7 linked regions of the Homo sapiens genome follow. The protein of the gene in region 1 purifies or fractionates together with the protein of each later gene. This does not show direct contact. Each region holds a gene or a part of one and is shown in the gene's direction. Other genes may lie near its edges.

The links.
Region 2: the proteins of WIF1 (region 1) and PNPT1 purify together in Homo sapiens (affinity purification with mass spectrometry; one large-scale study listed by BioGRID and IntAct). This does not show direct contact.
Region 3: the proteins of WIF1 (region 1) and NDUFA12 purify together in Homo sapiens (affinity purification with mass spectrometry; one large-scale study listed by BioGRID and IntAct). This does not show direct contact.
Region 4: the proteins of WIF1 (region 1) and EHD1 purify together in Homo sapiens (affinity purification with mass spectrometry; one large-scale study listed by BioGRID and IntAct). This does not show direct contact.
Region 5: the proteins of WIF1 (region 1) and NT5C2 purify together in Homo sapiens (affinity purification with mass spectrometry; one large-scale study listed by BioGRID and IntAct). This does not show direct contact.
Region 6: the proteins of WIF1 (region 1) and PPP1R8 purify together in Homo sapiens (affinity purification with mass spectrometry; one large-scale study listed by BioGRID and IntAct). This does not show direct contact.
Region 7: the proteins of WIF1 (region 1) and UBXN7 purify together in Homo sapiens (affinity purification with mass spectrometry; one large-scale study listed by BioGRID and IntAct). This does not show direct contact.

What each region holds. Positions count from the first base shown.
Region 1 is NC_000012.12:65,079,806-65,083,305, reverse strand, and holds part of WIF1 (wnt inhibitory factor 1 precursor), read left to right. Parts: intron 1-3,500. UniProt on the Homo sapiens protein: Binds to WNT proteins and inhibits their activities. May be involved in mesoderm segmentation.
Region 2 is NC_000002.12:55,673,345-55,676,844, reverse strand, and holds part of PNPT1 (polyribonucleotide nucleotidyltransferase 1, mitochondrial precursor), read left to right. Parts: intron 1-3,500. UniProt on the Homo sapiens protein: RNA-binding protein implicated in numerous RNA metabolic processes. Catalyzes the phosphorolysis of single-stranded polyribonucleotides processively in the 3'-to-5' direction. Mitochondrial intermembrane factor with RNA-processing exoribonulease activity.
Region 3 is NC_000012.12:94,993,698-94,997,197, reverse strand, and holds part of NDUFA12 (NADH dehydrogenase [ubiquinone] 1 alpha subcomplex subunit 12), read left to right. Parts: intron 1-2,940; coding exon 2,941-3,028; intron 3,029-3,500. UniProt on the Homo sapiens protein: Accessory subunit of the mitochondrial membrane respiratory chain NADH dehydrogenase (Complex I), that is believed not to be involved in catalysis. Complex I functions in the transfer of electrons from NADH to the respiratory chain.
Region 4 is NC_000011.10:64,868,622-64,872,121, reverse strand, and holds part of EHD1 (EH domain-containing protein 1), read left to right. Parts: intron 1-3,500. UniProt on the Homo sapiens protein: ATP- and membrane-binding protein that controls membrane reorganization/tubulation upon ATP hydrolysis. In vitro causes vesiculation of endocytic membranes. Acts in early endocytic membrane fusion and membrane trafficking of recycling endosomes.
Region 5 is NC_000010.11:103,186,773-103,190,272, reverse strand, and holds part of NT5C2 (cytosolic purine 5'-nucleotidase), read left to right. Parts: intron 1-3,026; exon of another isoform or gene 3,027-3,148; intron 3,149-3,500. UniProt on the Homo sapiens protein: Broad specificity cytosolic 5'-nucleotidase that catalyzes the dephosphorylation of 6-hydroxypurine nucleoside 5'-monophosphates.
Region 6 is NC_000001.11:27,844,282-27,847,781, forward strand, and holds part of PPP1R8 (nuclear inhibitor of protein phosphatase 1), read left to right. Parts: intron 1-2,746; coding exon 2,747-2,811; intron 2,812-3,500. UniProt on the Homo sapiens protein: Inhibitor subunit of the major nuclear protein phosphatase-1 (PP-1). It has RNA-binding activity but does not cleave RNA and may target PP-1 to RNA-associated substrates. May also be involved in pre-mRNA splicing.
Region 7 is NC_000003.12:196,366,428-196,369,927, reverse strand, and holds part of UBXN7 (UBX domain-containing protein 7), read left to right. Parts: intron 1-416; coding exon 417-507; intron 508-1,772; coding exon 1,773-1,900; intron 1,901-3,500. UniProt on the Homo sapiens protein: Ubiquitin-binding adapter that links a subset of NEDD8-associated cullin ring ligases (CRLs) to the segregase VCP/p97, to regulate turnover of their ubiquitination substrates.

The sequences.
Region 1 (3,500 bases):
TGTTTGGGTCTTTAACATTGAACTATTTTCCTTTCTTGCTTATTTTAGATTTTTTCTGGCCCTTCACTTACAGCGTACGATCTATTTTACATCTCTTTAGTACCTCTCATACCCAGTGAATCTGCTAATCTGAATTCACAGTGAATCTGCGAATCTGAATTCACTTGTATGCTGTAACAATAATAGGCTGTTGTGAGAATTAAATAAACAGTAACTGCAGTATAATAAACATTCAACAAAAATTATTTGAAAATTTTCAAACCTTACAGCTTTTGTGTGTTTTGTATCTATAAATGCCTGAAACCTTCTTTAGAACAAAGATGATAACTTTATTGTTTTAATGTTCTTCCATGAGCACTTAGGTCAGCATCATGATATATGGGTTAAAAGAGGTTTGAAGTCCTTGGTTTTCTGAAAGATCTTTGATTCTTAACTCAGAGGCTCCTACAATTATTGTGCTTATTAGATTAAGTACACACCATAAACACAGAACTTCAAAGGTAGAAGAGAAATACTGGATTCTCTTCATTCCTCTCAATAAGGGGTTAATGCAATTCTCTGCTTCCTTTCTCTATGTCTACCCTAAAAGGAGTGCCAGAACAAAGGCCTTATGAGTTGTCCCATTTTGCTGTTTAAATGATGTCTTCATCTCATCTGGAAGGAACAATCCTAATATTCAGCCAAGTCCATTGGAAGCAAGTTAAATGACCTCCAGCACTCCTCTCTTGATAATATTTGGGTGTCTTTTATGCTTCTCCATGAAAAGAAAATTTACTGCATGGCAAACCATGCCAGTGAATTATTCTCCTGAATAGACCCATTCTTTGTTTGAATACAAAGCAACCTTTTCATGTGTTTCCCAAATAATTACTCTGTTTGCCTTTACCTGAGTTTCCTCTAGTGTCATTTAATGGAACAAAATGTACTTTTTCCTAATAGAGGTTTTAGACTCTCCAGTATACCATTTCTCTATTACTGTTCATGCTCTGAGTTCCTTTTATCTAAATAATAAATCTACAATTTGTGGAAATTGTTCCCAAACTTTAAAGCTAGTTCTCTGTTCTCTTTGGCATAGAATTTAGATTTTATTTGCTCTCAAATAAGTTTTTCCAATGGGGAGATTTGGGTCTAAGAATATTTATTATAAATAAAGTAAAAACAGAAAGTCCTGTCTAGAAGTTAGAGTATGGCGTAAATATATTGTTCATCAGCCATTTCTTGTGGCTTTTAATTTAAGCCCTTAGGTTAAATGAAGGATATATTTACTCTGTAGTTCATAATACTATATTTGTGGAAATATTTTCACAGTATTGATGGTTTTAGATTTCTTTACAATGGCAAAGTAAAACTTTGAAAGAAGTTAGTGTCAACATCAGAGATAAAAGGTTAGTCAATTTCTAAATGGTTTTCAAGTTAAAATTTTTCTTTTTTCTTTTCTTTTTTTTTTATCTTAAAACTTCCCAGTGTGAAGTTAGAATTTTTAAAGAGGCAATGAAAACCACAGACAAAATCTTTTTTAAAGAAATGTACCAAGTATCCAGGAAATTACATGTTTCAGAGATTCATGCACCATTAGTTATCATCTTCAGCAAGAAAGAAAACGATTTACTCTGGTAACTGCCTTTTGCTGATAAGATCCAAGAAAGAAACCAGTTCCTGCCTTATGAACAGTCTTATTAGAATAAGACAAATGTTTACTGATTCTCAAAGAAATAAAAGGGACACTTTTGTGTAAAGTGTGTTATTGATTAGATCAGAGTATTGGGTGTCCAGAGAAATCTATTAAGCCTAGCTGCATCATGTGAAGCAGTCGTGCCACTGCTCATTATCAACTCTCTGATGCTAAGTATAACAGATTCCATGCTTCTCAGTCTACCTTCTGTGGTCATACCTGAAGGCTCTGTGAAGTTATGTTTCTGGCCTCCGAATGGAATTTTTTCAGTTCCATATTCTTTGAACATCATCAAAACTTTTTGGAAGAGGCGTTCAGAAGCTATTTTATGCAAATTGCTGCACTTTCAAGGAGACATGGAAGAGATTTAAATAAAATTGTTGTTTAAACACAGCCACGTTAAATAGATGTTCAAGAAGAATATTTTATCTATGATCAGAGAATTATGGAAAAAGAATCATCAGCCACGGAACTGAAAGGAGGGTACATGATTAATGCTTTTTAAAAAAAATACATAAATGCACTTATTTCATGAAAAGATATAAATTCACATATAGAAAATCTGAAAAAGAGAGAAAAGAAAAAAAATCACCATCAATTCTACACAATCATTGTTTTAATCTTGGTGTCTAGTTTTTCTTATTAACTAAAAGTTTATTTTTTAAATTAAATTATATTTGTTAAAATTATTGTAGTTTTACAAATGTAATTTTTAAATATATCACACATAGAAAGGTATATTTAATTTATAATGTGACAAAGCTCAAAGATATAATTATGGGGTAGCAAATGATAACTTATATGGTATTTGACCTTTTAATTTCAAAGTTTTTTGCATTCTATCCATTCATTTCTTTTCCATCATTATATGTACTGTTAAGTCTTTAGAATGTTTTGGCACATGGTGTGCATTACACCCAAGTTTATTGTGTGATTGTTGTTACTGTACTTAGTAATAGAAATAATTCAAATGTTATTCATTATAAGGGCATCTATCACTAAATCCTTTCATAGTGCCAAATAAAATACGTTTTAGAACAGTATGTTAAATGATACATATTATCTAGTAAAATGTAGAGGGAAGTGCAGGTGGTAGAAGTCATTTAAAACACCTGGATTCATGAAAACAAATCCACTTTTAATAGTCATTGGTTTTCCTGCAGGGACAGAAATACTGTTCTCTCTTTCAAAGGAATTCATTCCAAATTGAATTACCTTTCCTGACAACACTCCTTTCATCAGACTTCTTATAAACCTCTGCCTTCCCTTAAACAGGGTAAGAATTACCTGCCTTATGACCCTTTATTCTCAGGGCCATCCTAGTGAATCAATTTTATAAATTAACTTAAACAATGTTGTTACCCACCTAGGGAACTGTTCACAGTGGTCTTTTGGAAACTTGACCACAACTCACAGGAGGGGATGCAGTGGGAATTTGGTCCATGAAGGTTATCCTTTTGGCTTAGTGAAACCAGGAAGTGTTTCTCAATTAACTTCAAGTATGGACAAGTTCCCACAGCATCTGAGACTACCCCTTGGCATTATTATCCTCATGTGAAGTCCTTAATGCCTGCTGCATGTGATACTGTGATTTAAAGCAGCAAATTGTTTGAATGTCTACCATGTATCTCTTAATATCTTTCATGTTGTAAAATAAATTTTATATTGCTTGTAGGGTCATATTCTTTTGCAACCTCCTTCTAGCCCATGTTAATGTAATTTCTTTAATTAATAGATAGAATGCAAAAATTAATATAATTAATTACATTGAATTAATGTAGTTCTGGGTGTGGAACTGAATGGATAGAATGCAAAAAGTTAATTAATT
Region 2 (3,500 bases), on another chromosome or scaffold:
TGTTGCCGAGGCTGGAGTACAGTGGCATGATCTTGGCTCAGTGCAACTTCCGCCTCCCAGGTTCAAGTGATTCTCTTGACTCAGCCTCCTGAGTAGCTGGGATTACAGGCGTGCACCACCACACCTGGCTAATTTTTGTGTTTTTAGTAGAGACAGGGTTTCACCATGTTTGTCAGGCTGGTCTCAAACTCCTGACCTCAGGTGATCCACCTGCCTCAGCCTCCCGAAGTGCCGGGATTGCAGGCATGGGCCACCACTCCCGGGCAGTCATCCAGATCTTTAGAGTATAATCTTACACGGCAAGAATAGTTACTCCATGCTGTCAGCTGCTGGGTTACTTCAACACCAACATTCTGAACCGTACCATTTAGATGTTTGTTTTCAACTGGTATATTTAATATCACTAATATTTCTGTGTGTGAGAAGATATCGGTCAGGAAAAAGTATACCAGTAACATGTTTTTAGAAGATATTTTGGGTCTAGAATTTATAGCTTCAGCTAATCTCAAAACTCCTTCATCTTCAACTGCTAAAATGGTTGACAGTTTATAGCAATCTTCTTTTTTTTTTTTTTTTTTTTTTGGTTGAGATGGAGTCTTACTCTGTCGCCCAGGCTGGAGTGCAGTGGCGCAATCTCGGCTCACTGCAACCTCCATCTCCAGGTTCAAGCGATTCTCTTGACTCGGCCTCCCAAGTAGCTGGGACTACAGGCGTGCACCACCACACCTGGCTAATTTTTTATTTTTAGTAGAGATGGGGTTTCAACATGTTGGCCAGGCTGGTCTCAAACTCCTGAACTCAGGTGATCCACCTGCCTCAGCTTCCCAAAGTGCTGGGATTACAAGCGTGAGCCACCACGCTGGGCCTATAGCAATCATTTTGACAAGCTTTTATGTTTAAATTTTTAGCATCGATAGCAGTGTTGTCCAGTAGAACTCTGCAGTGAAGGGAATGTTTTATATCTGATCATGTGGCTACTTAGCACTTCAGATGTGGCTAGAGTAACTGAGGAACCAAAATTTTAATTTTGTCTAATTTTAAATAATTTAAATGCAAGTAGCCATATGTGGCTAGTAGTTACCATATTGGACAGCACAGCTCTGTAGACTCAACTGTAAGGAGTGTTCTTTCTTTCTTTCTTTCTTTTTTTAAGACAGTCTCACTCTGTTGCCAAGCTGGAATGCAATGGTGTGATTATACATCACTACAGCCTCAAACTGTGGGGTTCAAACGATCCTATGTCCTCAGCCTCCTGAGTAGCTGGGAATCCAGGCACATGTCACCACACCTGGCTAAAGAAATTTTCTTAGAAAGTATTTTTTAAAAGGAATTGCATTAAAGTTTAATGAGTGAAAACAAAGTTTATTTGGGGGGTATCCATTTTTCTTTGTCATATTCTATTTTTTAAATTTTACCATTATTTTTATTAGATATAGCATCTCATTATATTGCCCAGGCTAATCTCCTGGCCTCAAGCAATCCTCCTGTCCTGGCCTCCCATAGCACTGGAATTACAAGCATGAGCCCCATGCCCAGCCATATTTTTTTTTTTTTTGAATCTGGTTCTCAACTCTCCTCAACTCTATTGTCCAGACTAGAGTATGAGTATAGTGGCGTGATCATGGCTCACTGTAGCCTAGCCTGAAACTGCTGGCCTCAAGTGATCATCCTGCCTCAGCCTCTAGAATAGCTAGGATTACAGGCACACCACCGCAGCTGAGTTTTTTATCTTCTAGTTGTTATCTTTTTAGGGACAGGACCTTGCTGTGTTGCTCAGCCTGGTCCCAGACTCCTGGCCTCAAATAATCCTCCCACCTTGGCCTCCCAAAGTACTGGGACAATAGGCATGAGCCATCACACCTGGCCACATATTTTATTTTTAAAAGCAATTTATTGAGATATAATTTATACCCATTAAATGAATTTTTAAAAATCTCCGGATTAATCCTGTCAAAGTGAGAGGATATCTTGGAAATACAGATGAGAAAAAGAATATAGCCATCTCAGTATCATGGTATCAGAAGAAATTTCTTCAGGCCTGGTGCAAAATATGGAAACCTTATTTCCCTTTACCCTCTCCCATTTGGAATGCAATTGTTATCATTTTCTTCTACAGTTAGAACCATATCAGGCAGTGTTACAATTTTTGCTTTTGCTTCAACTGTCAAACATAATTTAGAAAACTCAAGAGGGAAAGAAAAGCTTATTGCTCTGTATTTACTCTTTTTCTCTATTTATTTATTTATTTTTTTGAGATGGAGCCTCATTCTGTCGCCCAGGCTAGAGTGCAGTGGCGTGATCTCAGCTCACTGCAACCTCCACCTCCTGGGTTCAAGTGATTCTCATGCCTCAGCCTCCTGAGTAGCTGGGACTACAGGTGCACGCCACTATGCCTGGCTAATTCTTTCATTTTTTATAGAGACAGGACCTCGCTATGTTGCCCAGGCTGGTCTTGAACTCTGACTTCAGGTGATCTGCCCACTTTAGCCTCCCAAAGTGCTGGGATTACAGGTGTGAGCCACCACGCTCAGCCTCTATATTTATTCTTAGTTTGCATACTGATTTTCTTTCCTTTCTAACAGTCCACGATGTCTTCTCTTATTTTTTCATTTCTGTTTAGAAAACTTCCTTTAGCTATTTCTAATGCAATAGAAAAAATTCTATTATTCAGTCCTTTAGTTGGCTTACTTGAAACAGGATCACTGCAGAGATTTCCCCATCTGTGCAAGAATTAGACAATGTGAGAATTAATTGTTAAACAGGAAATATTTATTAGATTCCTATTGTGTTACATATTTTTACATTTTATTTAAAATATGTATTGCCAGGAGCGGTGGCTCACGCCTGTAATCCCAGCACTTTAGGAGGCTGAGGCGGGTTAATCACCTGAGGTCAGGAGTTCGAGAGCAGCCTGGGCAACATGGCAAAACCCCGTCCCTACTAAAACTACAAAAATTAGCTGGATGTAGTGGCTCACGCCTGTAATCCCCAGCACTTTGGAAGGCCAAGGCAGGCAGATCACCTAAAGTCACTTTGGCAAATAATATAAACAGTTCACAGAAAAGGACATACATATGGCCTTTTAAAAATATAAAAAGATGCCAGGCACAGTGGCTCACGTCTAATCCCAGCACTTTGGGAGGCTGAGGCAGGCAGATCACAAGGTCAGGAGATTGAGACCATCCTGGCTAACACAGTGAAACCCCATGTCTACTAAAAATACAAAAAATTAGCTGGGCATGGTGGCGGGCGCCTGTAGTCCCAGCTACTCGGGAGGCTGAGGCAGGACAATGGTGTGAACCTGGGAGGCAGAGCTGGCAGTGAGCCGAGATTGCGCCACTGCACTCCAGCGTGGTCAACAGAGTGAGACTCTGTCTCAAAAAAAAAAAAAAAGTATTAAAAACAAATGCACTTGTATACTTTAAAAGATTTAATTTTTATTTTATGTGACTTATAGCTCAATAAAACTTATTTTTAAAATATGTGCATGATTTCTTTTT
Region 3 (3,500 bases), about 30 Mb from region 1:
CGTGTGTGTGTGTATGTGTGAGTGTGATGAGGTCTCACTATTTTACCTGGGCTGGTCTTGAACTCCTGAGCTCAAGCAATCCTCCCGCCTTAGCCTCCTGAGGAGCTGGAATTACAGGCACATACTGTCACACCTAGTTATGATATTTTTAATACATAAATCACAGAATTTTAGACCTAGAATAGATTTTAAGAGATTGTCTAAAAACTATTGTTTTATAGATGAAGAAACTGAGGCCCAAGGAAGTATCTTTACCAAAGAGACTTAATCATGTAATTAATGGCAGAACCTGGGGTAATTATTCTTTCTACTTCTCACTGTATTGTTACAAACTATAATATTACATTCTTTCCTTTCTTTAATTTTTTTTTTTTTTTTGAGACAGAGTTTTGCTCTTGTTGCCCAGGCTGGAGTGCCATGGCACGATCTTGGCTCGCTGCAACCTCCACCTCCCAGGTTCAAGTGATTCTCCTGCCTCAGCCTCCTGAGTAGCTGGGATTACAGGCATGCGCCATCATGCCCAGCTAATTTTTTGTATTTTTAGTAGAGATGGGGTTTCTCTATGTTGGTCAGGCTGGTCTTGAACTCCTGACCTCGTGATCCACCCGCCTCAGCCTCCCAAAGTGCTGGGATTACAGGTGTGAGCCACTGCAGCCAGCCTCCTTTCTTCTGTTCTCCCTTGCATTGGAAATATTCTTATTTTTGCTAATTAAAAAAAAATTAGGGCCTGGCATGGTGGCTCATGCCTGTAATCCCAATGCTTTGGGAGGCTAAGGTGGGAGGATCAGTTGAGGCCAGCAGTTCAAGACCAGCCTGGGCAACATAGAGACCCCCATCTCGTGTGTGTGTGTGTGTGTGTGTGTGTGTGTGTGTACCTATATATGTATGTATTTATATATATTTGGTGTATGAAAGCTCCCTCCCCTTATAATTTTGCAACTCTTTCAATAGTTTAGTCTTTATGTATATTTAAAATTCTTTTCTTTTATTTCGAGACAGGGTCTCTCTGTTGCCCCACCTGAAATGCAGTGGTGTGATCTCGGCTCACTGCAACCTCTGCCTCCCGTGCTCAAGTGATCCTCTCACCTCAGCCTTGAGAGTAGCTGGGACTACAGGCATGTGCCACCATGCCCAGCTAATTTTTGTATTTTTTGTAGGGACAAGGTTTCACTATGTTGCCCAGGATGGTCTCGAACTCCTGAGCTCAAGTGATCCCCCTGCCTCAGCCTTCCAGAGTCCTGGGATTAAGAAGTGAGCCACCGTGCCCAGCCAGTTGTGTTTATTAAAAAAAAAAAATGCACAGCATTTTTAAAAATAGCAACACAACATTCCAGTGTATGGAAGAACCATTATTTCTTCAATCCTGTTACTATCGATAGACACATAGATTGCTTTTGACTTTTTGCTATTAGGAATGATGCTACTGTAAACCTGCTTGTAACTACATTCATGTGTTTAAATAAATTTCTGGCCTGATCTCTACTAAAAATACAAAAATTAGCCAGGCATGGTGGCACATGCCTATGGTCCCAGCTACTCGGGAGGCTGAGGCAGGAGAATCGCTTGAACCCAGGAAGGGGAGGTTGCAGGCAGTGAGCCGAGGCCGCGCCATTGCACTCCAGCCTAGGCGACAGAGCGAGACTCCGTCTCCAATAAATAAATAAATAAATAAATAAAGTTGAATTTCTGAGTCTGAGAATAGGCATTTAACATTTCAAGAAATACAGAGAGAGAGACAGACAGAGAGAGAGAGAGATTGTTAGGGCCCACTTCCATCATTATAGCCTAACTGTATTGTCAGGGCTTGACTTATGAAACCTTTCCCAAGGTCTCCTCCATCTGCCTGCACATTCCCCTGCCTCACTGGATTATAGTTTACTTTTAGTTAGCTATTCTTAAGATTTATTTCTCTAAATGAAGCAGTAAATGTTGATTGAAATCTGTATTTTTAAAAAGAGATGAGGTCATGTTTAAGTACCGTTAGTCAATTTTTGTTGATTATATGTTTACCTGGGAAAACCCTGTAAATGAAATGCAGATTACCTTTTACTTATTGGTTTAAAGTCCATCATAGGAATGAATGGATTCAGTGTTCCCTATTGGCAGGTAAGAGCAGTAAGGAAGGGGTAGAAGGAATTAATACTTATTATGTGCTTATATGGCTGATGCTGAACTAGGTGAATGTATGTGATGTTTAATTTTCACAGCAACTCTAAGATGTAGGTATAGTCATCCACTTTTACTAGATAAAGAAACTGAGGCTCATAAAATTTGCCTAATAACCACTGATAATAAGTGACAAAGCCCAAGTCTTTGCTCAGTTTAAGGACCCAATTGTGTAAATAAGTAGTGGTTAGGCCCCTCAACTAGTGCACAGAAATTTCCTAAATGAGGAGTGCAGCCATATTATTTTGATGACATGAGCTGTCCTATGTACCTAACCATCATTTCTAATGTTTGCTTATTGTATATAATTCACAAATTTCCAAAAGGATCTAGGGTGGTTTTAAAAAAATACTTATGTGGAGACATAGAATTCAAGTATGATTGCTACAAATGTGTTTTTTCCCCAGTCTCAAGAGGAACACCTTCTTTTCTGAATACCCTGTACATCTGGGAACACACTTTCCTATCCTGTCTGCTACTCCCTCTGTGGGGAGCTGGCAGGGAAGCAAGGATTCTCCCCTGTGGGAAAGGCCTGAGCCCCACCCACAGCAGTGAATCATCTCAGTCCTTGCTGCGGGTTGCTGCTTAAAGTTTGCCACACACCTCCTGGAGCTTACCTTCACGAATTCACCCAGGGTGTTATTCCTCCAATAGCTCTCTTATATAAGATCACAAAAAGTCTTTTCTTAATAAAAAGGTTGTCTTCTTTGATATTATGCATCTATGCTTTAAAAAAAAAAGTTTTTCTTTTTAAATGTTCATCTTCCCACCCAGGCCGTCACCGATGGGTTGTATATACTACTGAAATGAATGGCAAAAACACATTCTGGGATGTGGATGGAAGCATGGTGCCTCCTGAATGGTAAGCTAAGACAACATTTTATTTGTCTTTCTTTTTTTTCTTTTTTGAGACAGGGTCTCACTCTGTCACCCAGGCTGGAGTGCAGTGACATGATCATGACTCATGTCAGCTTTGACCTCCCAGGCTCAAGTGATCCTCCCACATCAGCCTCCCTAGTAGCTGGGACTACAGGCCCATGCCATCTCACCCGGATAATTTTTGTTTTGTTTTTAAATTTGTTTGTTTGTTTCTTTTTTGAGACAGAGTCTCATTCTGTCGCCCAGGCTGGAGTGCAGTGGTACAAACTTGGCTCACTGCAACCTCCACCTCCTAGGTTCAAGCGATTCTCCTGTCTTAGCCTCCCGAGTAGCTGGGACTACAGGTGTGAGCCACCACGCCTGGCTAATTTTGTATTTTTAGTACAGACAGGTTTTCACTGTGTTGGCCAGGCTGGTCTCGAACTCCTGACCTCAGGTGATCCATCCACCTCGGC
Region 4 (3,500 bases), on another chromosome or scaffold:
CTGGGGTTGTATGTCTTGTGTTGCTTGCCTTGGCCCCTGCCCTCTGAGATGCTCCCTCCCCACCTCCCACTCCCTCTGCTTCCTTTCCCTGGTAGGAAAGAGGCAGGCAGAGGTGTCTACACTGGCTGTCTCTGGGACAAGCACCAAAGTGTATGCTCCATATCAGTGGATCTGCAGACACAGCATGGCGTTTTGATTGGGAGCAAGGGGTGGACGTAGGTGTTGCCTTGTGGTCCCTGCCCTGGAGTTGCCTGTGCAGACAACAGGTTGGAGGAACAAGCCAGCAGGACATGAGGCTGCTGTCAGTGTGCTGCCCTGCTCTGCCTGTGTGGCCTCCCTCTCCCCTCCAGGTGCAAAGTGTGGCCCCTCTGCATCCCTGAGAGGCCAGGCTCCCCTATATCCACAGAAGGTCATCTCTACCCATTATGGGCAGGAAGGAGCCGGTGGCTGAAAGAGAAGCACATCACGCTGATTGGAGGAGGGGTTTCCTGCTGTGAAGTAGCAGAAGATCAAACCGATTTTACTAGACCATTTCTTTTCCTCCATAGCCCTAGAGGCCTTGGTTTAGATGTGTTTTACTAAAAGTTACCTGGTTAGGGTTTGAATGATGGTGTTTTATTGTCAGGAGAAAGACCATCGCTCAGTACCTCTTGGAGGTGCTGGGTGTAAACTCCAGGATGAGCCCCGCTAGGTGTACACAGGAGGAGTGGATTTCTGTTTCCTGGAGGCCCCGCCCGTCAGTCATGGAAAGGCCCGTGTGGCCTGTCCAGCGGAGGAGGTCGGAGTGGAGCAGTGCGTTCCCGGCAGGGCTGGCCACCTGCTACTGCCTTTGCTGGTGGCGTGGAAAGCAGGTGTTTCCCTCTCGGAAAGATGGGGCCGGCAGAGCACGCACCAGGGCCCCAGCACAACACGCCTCCCCTGGCCTGCCAGCCCGTTCCCTGGAAACATGTCCTTGTGGAGGCCGTGGATGGACATTGGGGTTGCTAATTGCATTTACTTCCATTTCCCACCCCGTCTGGCCCCGCCTGGCCCCTCCTGACTTTTTTTCCCCTTTCCCCATGGTCCTAATGTGTGCAGGAAACACGGTCTGAAAAGATAAGGTGGGCTGGTGCAGGCCCAAAGCAGTCAGGATGCAGCCAGGCTCTGTCAGGGACCCCTGAGGACTGCCTCAGGGACGAGAAGGGGGCCGGGTTGGGGTCTCTTGGGCTGCCTTTGCCTGTGTGCTAATCTGAGTGACTTTAAAGATACCGTTCTCCTGTGTCAGCAGAGAAAGGTGGCCTCTGGGGGCTGCGTTCATTCTTGAGTGCTGCCTGTGTGACTGATAAGGGCATTCCAAAGGGCAGCTGGGTCCGGCAGGGGTGGTGCCCTTGGCTCCAGGGGCTGCCGACCAGTTGCGTGGTCCCGGCAGTGCCTCATGCCGAGTCATCCCCCGGCGGGGCCTCTGTGGGCAGCCCGGCCAGTTCGTTCGTTCCCCACCATGGTCACTAGGCAACTGTGAACTAAGCGGGAGTTTTTGTGTCTCAATCTCCCCATGAAAGCTGTATCAGCATCAGCAGGGTAGTGTTTCTACTTGCAGTAGCAGATCAGAGACCTGGCCAGCTTTGTGTCTGACTTTCTGCTGGCCACTGCCACATCAGTGAGTTCCATTGAGTTATCACAGCAGCTGCATCTAGGAGGAAGCTCCTGCCTTTCAGAGGAGGAAGCAGAGGCTTAGGAAAGTTAAGTAATTGGCCTAAGATGACAGGCAGGCCAGCAAGTGTCGGCGCTAGGATTTGAACCCAGGTAGGGGCTGTGCTCCTACTGCGGCGGAGCTGAGAAGGGTGCCTTGGCATGAAGGCTGTGGGCGAAGGAGTGCCGGGAGCTTGGGTCAGACAGACCTTTGCCCCTGTTGGGTCATTACTGTGGACACACAGTAATGTGTGTCCCTCCTGAGACACACAGAGGCCACCCTCTGTTTCTCTCCCACCCAAGGTTAGACTCCAGTCCTGAAATGGACCTGAGGTCTGGGGCTTTGAACAGCAGTGCTGGTATTGTGTTCCCTGTTCCCAGCCATAAATGATCCCTTGGGGTCTCCAGGGAGCCTGGTGGCCTGGGCTCTCGTTTGCCCTCTGGTGGTCTGCAGGCTCCCTCTAAGCCTGGGAGCTGTCCTGATCCTTAGTGGTTGGATGGGGCCTCCCTGCCCACACTCCCACCTGTGTGTCCTGAGCCCTCCGGCCCAGAGGCAGGCCTGCGCCGTGGGCCGCCCCCACTTCCTGCCGACACCTCCTGAGATGGAGATGCCGCTGCCAGCAGCACCCCCAGGCTGAGGTTTCACCAGGGTGCTCCGAAGACCATCAAATGCTCCCAGGGGCTGCCCAAAGGCCATGAGCCAGGCCAGGTGCTGTGTCCCTCTTGGATTCAGCATCCATAGCACAAGTAGATCAGAAGGTTCAAGTCCCACGTTAGTACTTGGGGAGCTGGGTGGCTCTAGGGAGTTGCTGTAGTCCCTGGGAGCTGCATCAGTCCATCAGGAAACACCATAGCCTCTCCAGTTATTGTAGATTACCAGAATTTACATGTTAAGCTCTTGCCCTAGTGCCTGGTGCACAGTTAAGTGTTCAAGTGTCAGCTGGTTCATAGTCAAGAGATTGAAAAGCCCAGGGCTTTCCAGACGGTGATCTGAGTAACATCCTGGGGAGTATCCTCGGGGAAGTGCTGACTCAGCCGGGGTTTCCCGTTGGGTTCCAGGCCCTCCTTTGCTCCCAGCTCCAGGCCTCCCAAAACCCTCTGCTCGCCCCACCTGGCTGTGGTCTCCCTCTGTGGCCCAGCAGGCCAGGATGCCAAGACAGCTTTTGGCCTCAGCCTCTGCTGGGGGCGTGCAGGCTCTGCCACAGAGGAGGCGTACCAGGCGCTGCCCGCGCTCAGCACCTGTTCCCCAGGCTGCGCACTGGCGGTGGGCTGGGGAGCAGCTGGCCGAGCGCCTGCAAACATTCCGTTTATATTTGGGGGATGAGGCATTCTTCATGCATTTGAAGTCCTTGCCTACACACCCATCAGAATCTGAGCTTCTTAAGCCCAAAATACAAATCCTGCGAGTAAATAAGAGCAAACATTTACTCCTGCTCGCAGTGTGCCAGGCTCACTCCATCCTCCCGCGGCCCTCCAAGCTGGAAACCTACTATCTTCGTGTTACAGACTGAGAAGCTGGGAACCGAGGCTCTGAGAGGTCAGAGACCTGCTGGGTCACACAGCTCGTTGTTGAGTAGAAGGTTCAGGATGGAAATGTGGGCCTGATTCCAGAGTTCCTCTGCCCCCTCCCGCCCCTCTTTTGTTGCTTCTGTCTGATTTGCTGGGGTCTACGTTGTGTGTAGTGAAGTCCACCCTCCTCAGGTGCCCTGCTGTACAAAGCATTCCTGGGCTGCCGCCACCATGACAGAGAGTATTCCCATCGCCTGAAAGTTCCCGTGCCCCTCATAGTCACTCCTGGTCCCAGGCAGCCCACTGACCTTTGTCTCTAACTT
Region 5 (3,500 bases), on another chromosome or scaffold:
TGGATTCTTTGCAATTAGAGCGGAGTGAATGACCACCTGAGGTCAGGAGTTTGAGACCAGCCTGGCCAACATGGTGAAACCCCATCTCTACTAAAAATACAAAAATTAATCAGGCGTGGTAGCGCATGCCTGTAATCCCAGCTACTTGGGAGGCTGAGGCAGGAGAATCGCTTGAACCCAGGAGGCGGAGGTTGCAGTGAGCTGAGATTGCGCCACGCACTCCAGCCTGGGTGACAAGAGTGAAACTCTGTCTCAAAAAAAAAAAAAAAAAAAAAGAAAGCCACAAAATTAATGCGGCAAACCGGCCAGGTGCGGTGGCTCACGCCTGTAATCCCAGCACTTTGGGAGGTCGAGGCAGGTGGATCACCTGAGGTCAGGAGTTCGAGACCAGCCTGGCCAACATGGTGAAACCCCGTCTCTACTAAAAATATAAAAAATTAGCTGGGCGTGATGGCGCCCACCTGTAGTCCCAGCTACTCAGGAGGCTGAGACACGAGAATCGCTTGAACCTGGGAGGCAGAGGTTGCAGTGAGCCTATATCGTGCCACTGCACTCCAGCTTGGGCGACAGAGCATCTCAAAAAAAAAAAATTCAGTAAACAGTAAAAGAAAAAAGTTAAAAAAATTATGACAGTCTTAATCTTTGTTTTTTTTTTCGTTTTTTTTTTTGAGATGGAGTCTCGCTCTGTCGCCAGGCTGTAGTGCAGTGGTGCGATCTCGGCTCACTGCAGCCTCCGCTTCCTGGGTTCAAGCGATTCTCCTGCCTCAGCCTACCGAGTAGCTAGGACTAAAGGCGTGTGCCACCACGCCCAGCTAATTTTTGTATTTTTAGTAGAGATGGGGTTTCACCATGTTGGCCAGGATGGTCTCAATCTCTTTACCTCATGATCCGTCCGCCTTGGCCTCCCAAAGTGCTGCGATTACAGGCGTGAGCTACCACGCCCGGCCCTTAATTTTAATTGTTAAAATTTGATAAAGAAGGTGGGTAGTAGACATATCAAATGATCATTATATTATTTTCTGTGTGTTTGAAATATTTCACAGTATTTTAAGATGAACCTAAAATAAAACATTAAAGAAACTCCATTAAACTAATGAGCCTATAAAAATATATATCCCACTGGGCATCTGTAATGAAAACATGCTAATACTCAGCAAGCTTACTGATTTTTTTTTTTAAGCCGTTAAATTTCAGGCATCAGATTTCAGTCTTCTCTTTCCAAGCACATAGTACAAGCAGGCTCTTTCATCCCACACTCTTTTTTTTTTTCCGAGACGGAGTCTCACTTTGTTGCCCAGGCTGGCTCGATCTCAGCTCACTGCAACCTCTACCTCCTGGGTTCAAGCAATTCTCCTGCCTCTGCCTCCCGAGTACTACAGGCATGCTGAGAATACAGGCATGTGACACTGTGCCCGGCTAATTTTTGTGTTTTCGGTAGAGATGGGGTTTCACCATGTTGGCCAGGCTGGTTTCAAACTCCTGACCTCAGGTGACCTGCCCACCTCAGCCTCCCGAAGTGCTGGGATTATAGGCATAAGCCACTGCGCCCAGCCCAAATTCGTATGTTATACAGAATTTTCTGATTTATAAATGTGGGCAACTGATCGTAAAAAATTGTAAAAAACACTGTGACCTCTACAGAATCTGGACCCATAAATCTGTTTCTACATCTGGAAGGGAACTTGAGAGTCTTCCACGTTCAATGCCTTCATTTGACAGATGGGGAAAGTGAATCCCAAAATGTTTTGCATTTTTTGTCTTTTATGCAAGAAAGTCTTCCCTACCTTTGATCCGTAAGGCTGTTCATCTCTATATTCTTCTGTAAATTGTATGGTTTTGCTTTTTCACATTTAGGTTTATTGACAGTGCGTATTTTTTTCTGCTTAGTTTATCTTTATTTTTTATTTATTTATTCATTTTTGATTTTTGCACTGTCGCCTGGGCTGGAGTGCAATGGCGTGATCTCTGCTTACTGCAACTTCCACCTCCTGGGTTCAAGTGATTCGTCTGGCTCAGCCTCCCGAGTAGCTGGGATTACAGGCGCCCGCCACCATGCCTGGCTAATTTTTTTGTATTTTTAGTGGAGATGGGGGTTTCGCTATGTTGGCCAGGCTGGTCTCGAACTCCTGACCTCGTGATCCACCTGCCTCGGCCTCCCAAAGCATTGGGATTACAGGCGTGAGCCACCGCGTCCGCCCTATTTTATCTTTAATATGATCAGCTAGTATTTGTGTTACATATTCTTTTTCTACCATTATGTTTGTCATAAAATTATGCTCTATAAATTCATAAGGACAGGACATGCTTTTGTTATGCTCTGATTTTGGGTCAGAATATTGTAGAAAATGAAATTTTTGAATTCATTTTAGTGTAAATATTTTACAGATTTCTGCTCTTCTACATTATTTTGTCTCATTTGCCTTTAAAGATGAGTAGTACATGTATTTGACTATCCTTGAAAAATATTTTGCACACTTTTTATAGCAGTCATATTAGAATCTAGTTAGGCATTTGTGTATCTCTATCTAGTTTGTTTGAGAGCTGCTAAGTAAACCAGCTAGAATAATAGTGTGTAGATTGAAATAGCTCAAACATTCTGTATCAAAATTATAAGAATTTTAAGTTATTTTAATAAGCATTTAACAGTATCATGCTGTGTAAATAAGACCAAGCTGTGGCTTGGAGAGTAAACATTAAAAGTTTTTTTTTTTTTTTTTTTTTAAGATGGATTCTCACTCTGCCCCCCAGGCTGAAGTGCATTGGTGCAGTCTCAGCTCACTGCAACCTCTGCCTCCCGGGTTCAAGCAATTCTCTGCCTTAATCTCCCGAGTAGCTGGGATTACAGGCGCCCACCACTACACCTGGCTAATTTTTTATTTTATTTTATTTTTAGTAGAGATGGAGTTTCTTCATTTTGGCCAAGCTGGTCTTGAACTCCTGACCTTGTAATCTACCCGCCTCAGCCTCCCAAAGTGCTGGGATTACAGATGTGAGCCACTGCAACTGGCCTTTTTTATTTTTTTAAGGTGGAGTCTCTCTGTGTTGCCCAAGCTGGAGTGTAGAGGTGCGCTCTCAGCGTACTGCAACTTCCGCCTGCTGGGTTTAAGCGATTCTCCTGCCTCAGCCTCCCTAGTAGCTGGGATTACAGGTATGCGCCACCATGCCTAGCTAATTTTTGTATTTTTAGTAGAGACAGGTTTTGCCCTGTTGGCCAGGCTGGTCTTGAACTCCTGACCTCAGGTGATCCGCCCACCTCAGCCTCCCAGAGTGCTGGGATTATAGGCGTGAACCACCGCCCCTGGCCTAACATTAGAATCTTTCACAAATCTGGTCAGTAAATGCCTTTTTTTTTTTTTTTTTGAGACGGAGTCTTGCTCTGTCACCCAGGCTGGAGTGCAGTGGCTCCATGTCAGCTCACTGCAGCCTCCATCTCCCGGGTTCAAGCTGTTCCTCTGCCTCAGCCTCCCTAGTGCTGGGATTACAGGCATGTGCCACCACGC
Region 6 (3,500 bases), on another chromosome or scaffold:
CATGAGTCCCCATGCCTGGCTGAAATTTTTATTTTTTATTTTTTATTTTTATTTATTTATTTTTTGAGACGGAGTCTCGTTCTGTCACCCAGGCTGGAGTGCAGTGACGCAATCTCGGCTCATGCAACCTCTGCCTCCTGGGTTCAAGTGATTCTCCTGCCTCAGCCTCCCAAGTAGCTGGAATTATAGGCTTCTGCCACCACACCTGGCTAATTTTTTTGTATTTTTAGTAGAGACGGGGTTTCACCATGTTGGCCAGGCTGGTTTTGAACTCCTGACCTCAGGTGATCTGCCCTCAACCTCCCAAAGTGCTAGGATTACAGGCGTGAGCTACCGCGCCCAGCCCAAAATTTATATTTTTTAATGAGCTCCTGTTTGTACAACAGCCAGCAATTTGGGAACCACTGGACTAGACAAATTTCTTTTTTTTTTTTTTTTTTTTTTTTGAGACAGAGTCTCGCTCTGTCACCCAGGCTGGAGTGCTGGAGTGCAGTGGCACGATCTCAGTTCACTGCAACCTCCGCCTCCTGGGTTCACGCCATTTTCCTGCCTCAGCCTCCCGAGTAGCTGGGACTACAGGCGCCCGCCACCATGCCCGACTAATTTTTTTTTTTTTTTTTTTTTTTTTTTTTTAGTAGAGACGGGGTTTCACCGTGTTAGGCAGGATGGTCTCGATCTCCTGACCTCGTGATCCGCCCGCCTCGGCCTCCTAAAGTGCTGGGATTACAGGCGTGAGCCACCATGCCCGGCCTGACAAATTTCTTAAGTCTCTTTCAGGAGTGAGGATCTGATCTGCTCTGTTTTTCTCACTGAAAATTAGTGCCCTCGGCCGGGCACGGTGGCTCACCCCTATAATCCCAGCACTTTGGGAGGCCGAGGTGGGCGGATCACGAGATCAGGAGATCAAGACCATGCTGGCTAACACGGTGAAACCCCATCTCTACTAAAAATATAAAAAATTAGCTGGGTGTGGTGGCGGGCGCCTGTAGTCCCAGCTACTTGGGAGGTTGAGGCAGGAGAATGGCGTGAACCCAGGAGGCGGAGCTTGCAGTGAGCCGAGATGGTGCCACTGCACTCCAGCCTGGGCGACAGAGCAAGACTCCGTTTCAAAAAAAAAAAAGAAAGAAAGAAAATTAGTGCCCTCGAGCTTTCTTAGGGAAATGTGTTCAGGCAGTATAGCATAGTGGTTAAGAGCACAGGCTCTGAAACCGGAGGGGCCATGAGAGAAGTTTGGGATACCTTTTTAGAGACATTGTCTCTTTCTTAATCAGCTTGGATATTTTTGTCCTTTCTCGTCTATATAGAAGCCATTTGTTCATTGAGCATAGATTGATGGTGAATATAATACCAGAGTGTCCTCTTTAAAGGCATGGATCCTAATATGTGAAAAAATCCAGACTTAAAGCAAATAAACCAGGGGCTAATTATAATTACTCAAATTAAATAGTGATTCTTTGTTTTCCAAAGGGATTTCTGGGAGTTTTTCTTTCTTTCTTTCTTTCTTTTTTTTTTTTTTTTTTTTTTTTGAGACGGAGTCTCCTTCTGTCGCCCAGGCTGGAGTGCAGTGGCGTGATCTCGGCTCACTGCAAGCTCCACCTCCCGGGTTCACGCCATTCTCCTGCCTCAGCGTCCCGAGTAGCTGGGACTACAGGTGCACGCCACCACACCCAGCTAATTTTTTGTATTTTTTAGTAGAGACGGAGTTTCACCATGTTAGCCAGGATGGTTTCGACCTCCTGACCTCATGATCTGCCCACCTCGGCCTCCCAAAGTGCTGGGATTACAGGCGTGAGCCACCGCACCCGGCCAGGAGTGTTTCTTTCAATAACAAGCAACCTCATTGAAAATAAGATGACAACATCTATTAGGGAAATGATTCCTTCTCTATCACTATATTAAGTTAACTGGGGCTTGGAGTAGTTTTCTCTAGTAGTGGTACATAAGTTGGTGCCTCTGCATGTTTCCACTCACATTCAACCTTCAGTGAGAAAACTCCACCATCCTTGGTGATCCAGCCCAGTCATCCCCTCTGTGCTCCAGAAACACTGTTGTGCACTTCTCTTGAAGCACCTCTGTGTTGTAGCCTATCTGGCTCTGTGACTGTGAATTCAAGGGTGGGACAGTATCTTGCTCTTCATTTCCCGTGTAGACGGGGGCATCAGAGCCTTTAGTGCAAGTCTTGCTTATATACAGTTCAGGCCGTTCAAGTCAAAAGGCCAGGTTCAGTTTGAAGCCCTGGCTTTGAAACCAAAATCCGTTTTTTTGCTAATAAGCAGGCATTAGCAAGGCATTTGATATGTGACCTCTTGACATGTCATTGTTTTGTCACTGATATGGAACTGATAATGTCTACTCTTCTTTTCTTTCCCCTCAAAAGAGGGAGTTATACAGAATGGGAAAGAACTTGGGGGAGGGCAGCACAGCACAGTGGTGCAGATCACAGGCCTGTTTTGAACTACTTGGACTCAAGTCCTGGCTCCTGTACTCTCCACCAGAGCAACTGGGCCAGTCCCTTTGCTCCTCCAAGCCTCAGTTTGCTTTCTCATCTACTAAATGTTGATTGTGGTAGTACCTACATCACAGGGTCTTTGTGAGGATTTAGCACAATGCCCAGCACCCAGGAAGCACTCTCTGTGTTTTACAATTTTAATATGAGTTGTTGTGATGGTTTGTTTGCAGTGACTCCTGTGCCCTTATTCCTCCCAGTAAAGTACCAACCCAACCCTGCCCTCTTCTCTTTTTGCAGAGGATGTGGATCCCTCAGTTGGTCGATTCAGGAACATGGTGCAAACTGCAGTGGTCCCAGTCAAGGTAGGAAGCACATGAAATGCCATACAGTCTGTGTTTTAAAACCTGCTCTTTAGGCCAGGCGCGTTGGCTTATGCCTGTAATCCAAGCACTTTGGGAGGCTGAGGCAGGCAGATCAAGAGGTCAAGAAATCGAGGCCAGGCACAGTGGCTCACACTTGTAATCCCAGCACTTTGGGAGGCCAAGGCAGGCAGATCACCTGAGGTCAGGAGTTCGAGACCAACCTGGCCAACATGGTGAAACCCTGTCTCTACTAAAAATACAAAAATTAGCCAGGCGTGGTGGTAGGTCTCTGTAATCCCAGCTACTCAGGAGGCTGAGGCAGGAGAATCGCTTGAACCTGGGAGGCGGAGGTTGCAGTGAGCTGAGGTCGCACCATTGCACTCCAGCCTGGGCAACAGAGCAAGACTCTGTCTCAAAAAAAAAAAAAAAAGAGATTGAGACCATCCTGGCCAACATGTTGAAACCCTGTCTCTACTAAAAATACAAAAATTAGCTGGGTGTGGTGGCGCATTCCTGTAGTCTCAGCTAACTGGGAGGTTGAGGTGGGAGAATCGCTGGAACCGGGGAGGTGGAAGTTGCAGTGAGCTGAGATGGTGCCACTGCACTCCAGCCTGGTGACAGAGCGAGACTCCATCTCAAAAAAAAAATAACCTGCTCTTTATGTGCTGTTGAGTGAGTGCTTAATTTTA
Region 7 (3,500 bases), on another chromosome or scaffold:
ATCTCCTGACCTTGTGATCCACTCGCCTCGGCCTCCTAAAGTGCTGGGATTACAGGCGTGAGCCACCATGCCTGGCCCATAATCTTAATATATTGTGATTTATTAAGATGTATATGGTTGAGAGTTATGAATGACATAGTTGACAGATAACTTGAGCAGGAAGAATAATACCTCATCTGAACTGGGAAAGGAGGAGGAATGGGTCAATATGTTTATGGTAAATTTCCAGAGAGTGCTGGAAGTGGGAAGTTGAAGGAGTTCAAACCAGATTTATTTTCTTTTTAGTGTAGGAGTGAGATCTTAATACATAGGCCGGAGGTATATTTGGAGAGCTAATTGATGTTGGTGTATAAGAAGGTTATAGTTGGTTCTTTTCTTAGAGGCTGACTTTTTTTTTTATATCAATGATTTAACAGGTTTATCATGACAGTGAGGAAGGTCAGAGATACATACAGTTTTATAAGTTAGGGGATTTCCCCTATGTTTCCATATTGGACCCACGGACAGGTAAGATTTATATCAGCACGCAGCTTTTAACCTATTACTTGTCTTTCAGTTACCTAAATGATTGATCTTTAATATTTGACTGGATCTGTTTTCAGAATTGCAGTAATTTAGGTGAAGGTTTCGTTTTTTTCCCTTTATAATTATTTAAACATCTATTGATGTATGTATTTAGGACATCTTTTTCTGGCAACATTGGGAGATGGTAGTATTTTATGTTTGTGCAGTTCTGTTCTTTTGAAGAATAACTGATATGTTCATCTTACCTTTTTTAAGGGATTTTTTAAAAGTTTTTTTACCAGCTGGGCGTGGTGGCTCATGCCTGTAATCCCAGCACTTTGGGAGGCCGAGGTGGGCGGATCATGAGGTCAGGCGATCCAGACCATCCTGGCTAACACGGTGAAACCCCATCTCTACTAAAAATACAAAAAAAATTAGCCGGGCATGGTGGCGGGCACCTGTAGTCCCAGCTGCTTGGGAGGCTGAGGCAGGAGAATGGCCTGAACCCGGGAGGTGGAGGTTGCAGTGAGCCGAGATCGCGCCACTGCACTCCAGCCTGGGCAACAGAGTGAGACTCCATCTCAAAAAAACAAAACAAGACAAAAGTTTTTTTTATCATTAAAATATTAAGATTGCCCAGATACTAGTTGTAATCCCACCTGAGAAGCAGAGGGTGGAGCTGGTTTTATTAATTGATGGTGTTTTATATAGATATTGCTTTGTCTGAATCTCTTCTTCCTAAATGGCAGTAAGTGATAGCAGCAGATAAGATAGTTGCCCTATCATTACGGGTGGGAATCTGTTAGGTGAGTATAATTGATGTGACTTCTAGGTTATGAAGACACTATGTAGCATAAGCTGGTGGAGAGGATATGTCTTTACAGTACACTTTATGCATGTGCTGAAAGAGATACTTAATGAGAATGTTCAGAAAGATCCTAGATATTATATTTACAGATCCTGGTTTTTAATGTATGCATATGCTGAAAGAGATAATGAGAATGTTCAGAAAGATTCTAGATATTACCTTTATAGATCCTGGTTTTTAATCTATGCATATGCTGAAAGAGATACTTAATAAGAATGTTCAGAAAGATTCTAGATATTACCTTTATAGATCCAGGTTTTTAATCTATGCATATGCTGAAAGAGATACTTAATGAGAGTGTTCAGAAGGATTCTAGGTATTATATTTATAGATCCTGGAGAATGTTCAGAAGGATTCTAGATATTATATTTATTTATAGATCTTGGTTTTTAATCCTTAGGTCAGAAGCTAGTAGAATGGCACCAGTTAGATGTATCTTCTTTCTTGGACCAAGTGACGGGATTTCTGGGTGAACATGGACAACTGGATGGACTTTCTAGCAGTCCCCCCAAAAAATGTGCCCGTTCAGTAAGTATAATTAGGAGGTGGTGATGGGAAAATAAATGTAATTGGTCATAAGCATCTTATATAAAATGTTCGATGTTAAGATGGTAAAGATAATCTAACTAGTGGACAACTATCACTGTGGCTATAGCATCTTAGATATCCTCCTTATATTTTGATAATTTCCCACATGAGAGTTCCATCTTCTTGGTGAAATCATGATACTCATACTCCTGCCAGTCTGTCTTGCAGCTAGAGTGCAGGCAGATGCCCCAGGATCTGGATTTAGAAGGAAGCAATGTGAATAGGTTGGGCAGGAGGACTGACCTGGCAAGCCTAGTGGTAAAGGTGTCTACTTCCTGAGGGGCAGCTCTGGGAGGGCTTCTGATATCCAGGTCTAAATAGCAGTGAAAGTGGTTGGTTTTTTTGTGTGTTTTGTTTTTTGTTTTGGAGTGGGATCTTGCTGTTTTGCCCAGACTGTCCTAGAACTCCTGGGCTGAAGCAGCCTTCTCACCTCAACTGCCCGAATAGCTAGGACTACAGGTACATGCCACCACAGCCGGCTGGAAGTGGTGTTTTTTGTTTTTGCTGAAACAACTGTCATGGTATAGTTGAGCATTTTTATTGGTTAATATAGCTTTAGGGCCTGGCTCTCTGGCCCTCCTAGAATTTACTTCTATACTTAATTTCTAGAATATACTATTACTAGGTAGACATGTTTGATAATTGGTATCAAGATTGGTTGCAAATAAGAGACTGAACTTGCAAAGATACAGCAATCTCACATTGGTTTTCATGGCTGTTTGGCTTTGATAGCAGTAGGGATAAAAATAGTTTTGTTTTGTTGGTTTTTTTTTTTTCCTTTTTTTGAGCCAGAGTCTTGTTCTGTTGCTAGGGCTAGAGGGCAGTGGTGTGATCTTGGCTCACTGCAACCTTCGCCTCCTGGGTTCAAGCGATTCTCCTGCCTTGGCCTCCCAAGTAGCTGGGATTACAGACGTACACCACTGCATCTGGCTAATTTTTGTAGTTTTAGTAGAGATGGGGTTTCGCCTTGTTGGGCAGGCTGGTTTCAAACTGCTGACTTCAAGTGATCCGCCCTTCTCGGCCTCCCAAAGTGCTGGGATTACAGGCGTGAGCTAACGCGCCCGTCCTGTTTTTTTCTTTGGGCAGGATCTTGTTCCATTTCTCAGGCTGCAGTGCAGTGGTGTGATCATGGCTCGCTACAGCCTCCACCTCTTGGGCTCAAGCGATCCTTCCACCTCAGCCTCCTAAGTAGCTGGGACCACAGATGTGCATCACCATGCCAGCTAAGCTGTTAAAGTTTTGTAGAGACGGAGGCCTCCGTATGTTGTCTAGGCTGGTCTCAAACTGGCCTCAAGCAATCCTCCCGCCTCAGCCTCCCAAAATGTTGGGATTCTGGGTGTGAGCACCACACCTAGCAACATTTTTATTGTATTGTATTGTATTTATTGTATTGTATTGTATTTTTTGAGATGTGGTCTCACACTGTTGCCCAGGCTGGACTGCAGTGGCATGATATTAACTCACTGTAGTCTTTGCAGCCTTGAGAGAACTTTAAAAAAAAAAAAAACTTGCTAGCCTTGAACTCCTGGGCTCAGTCAAT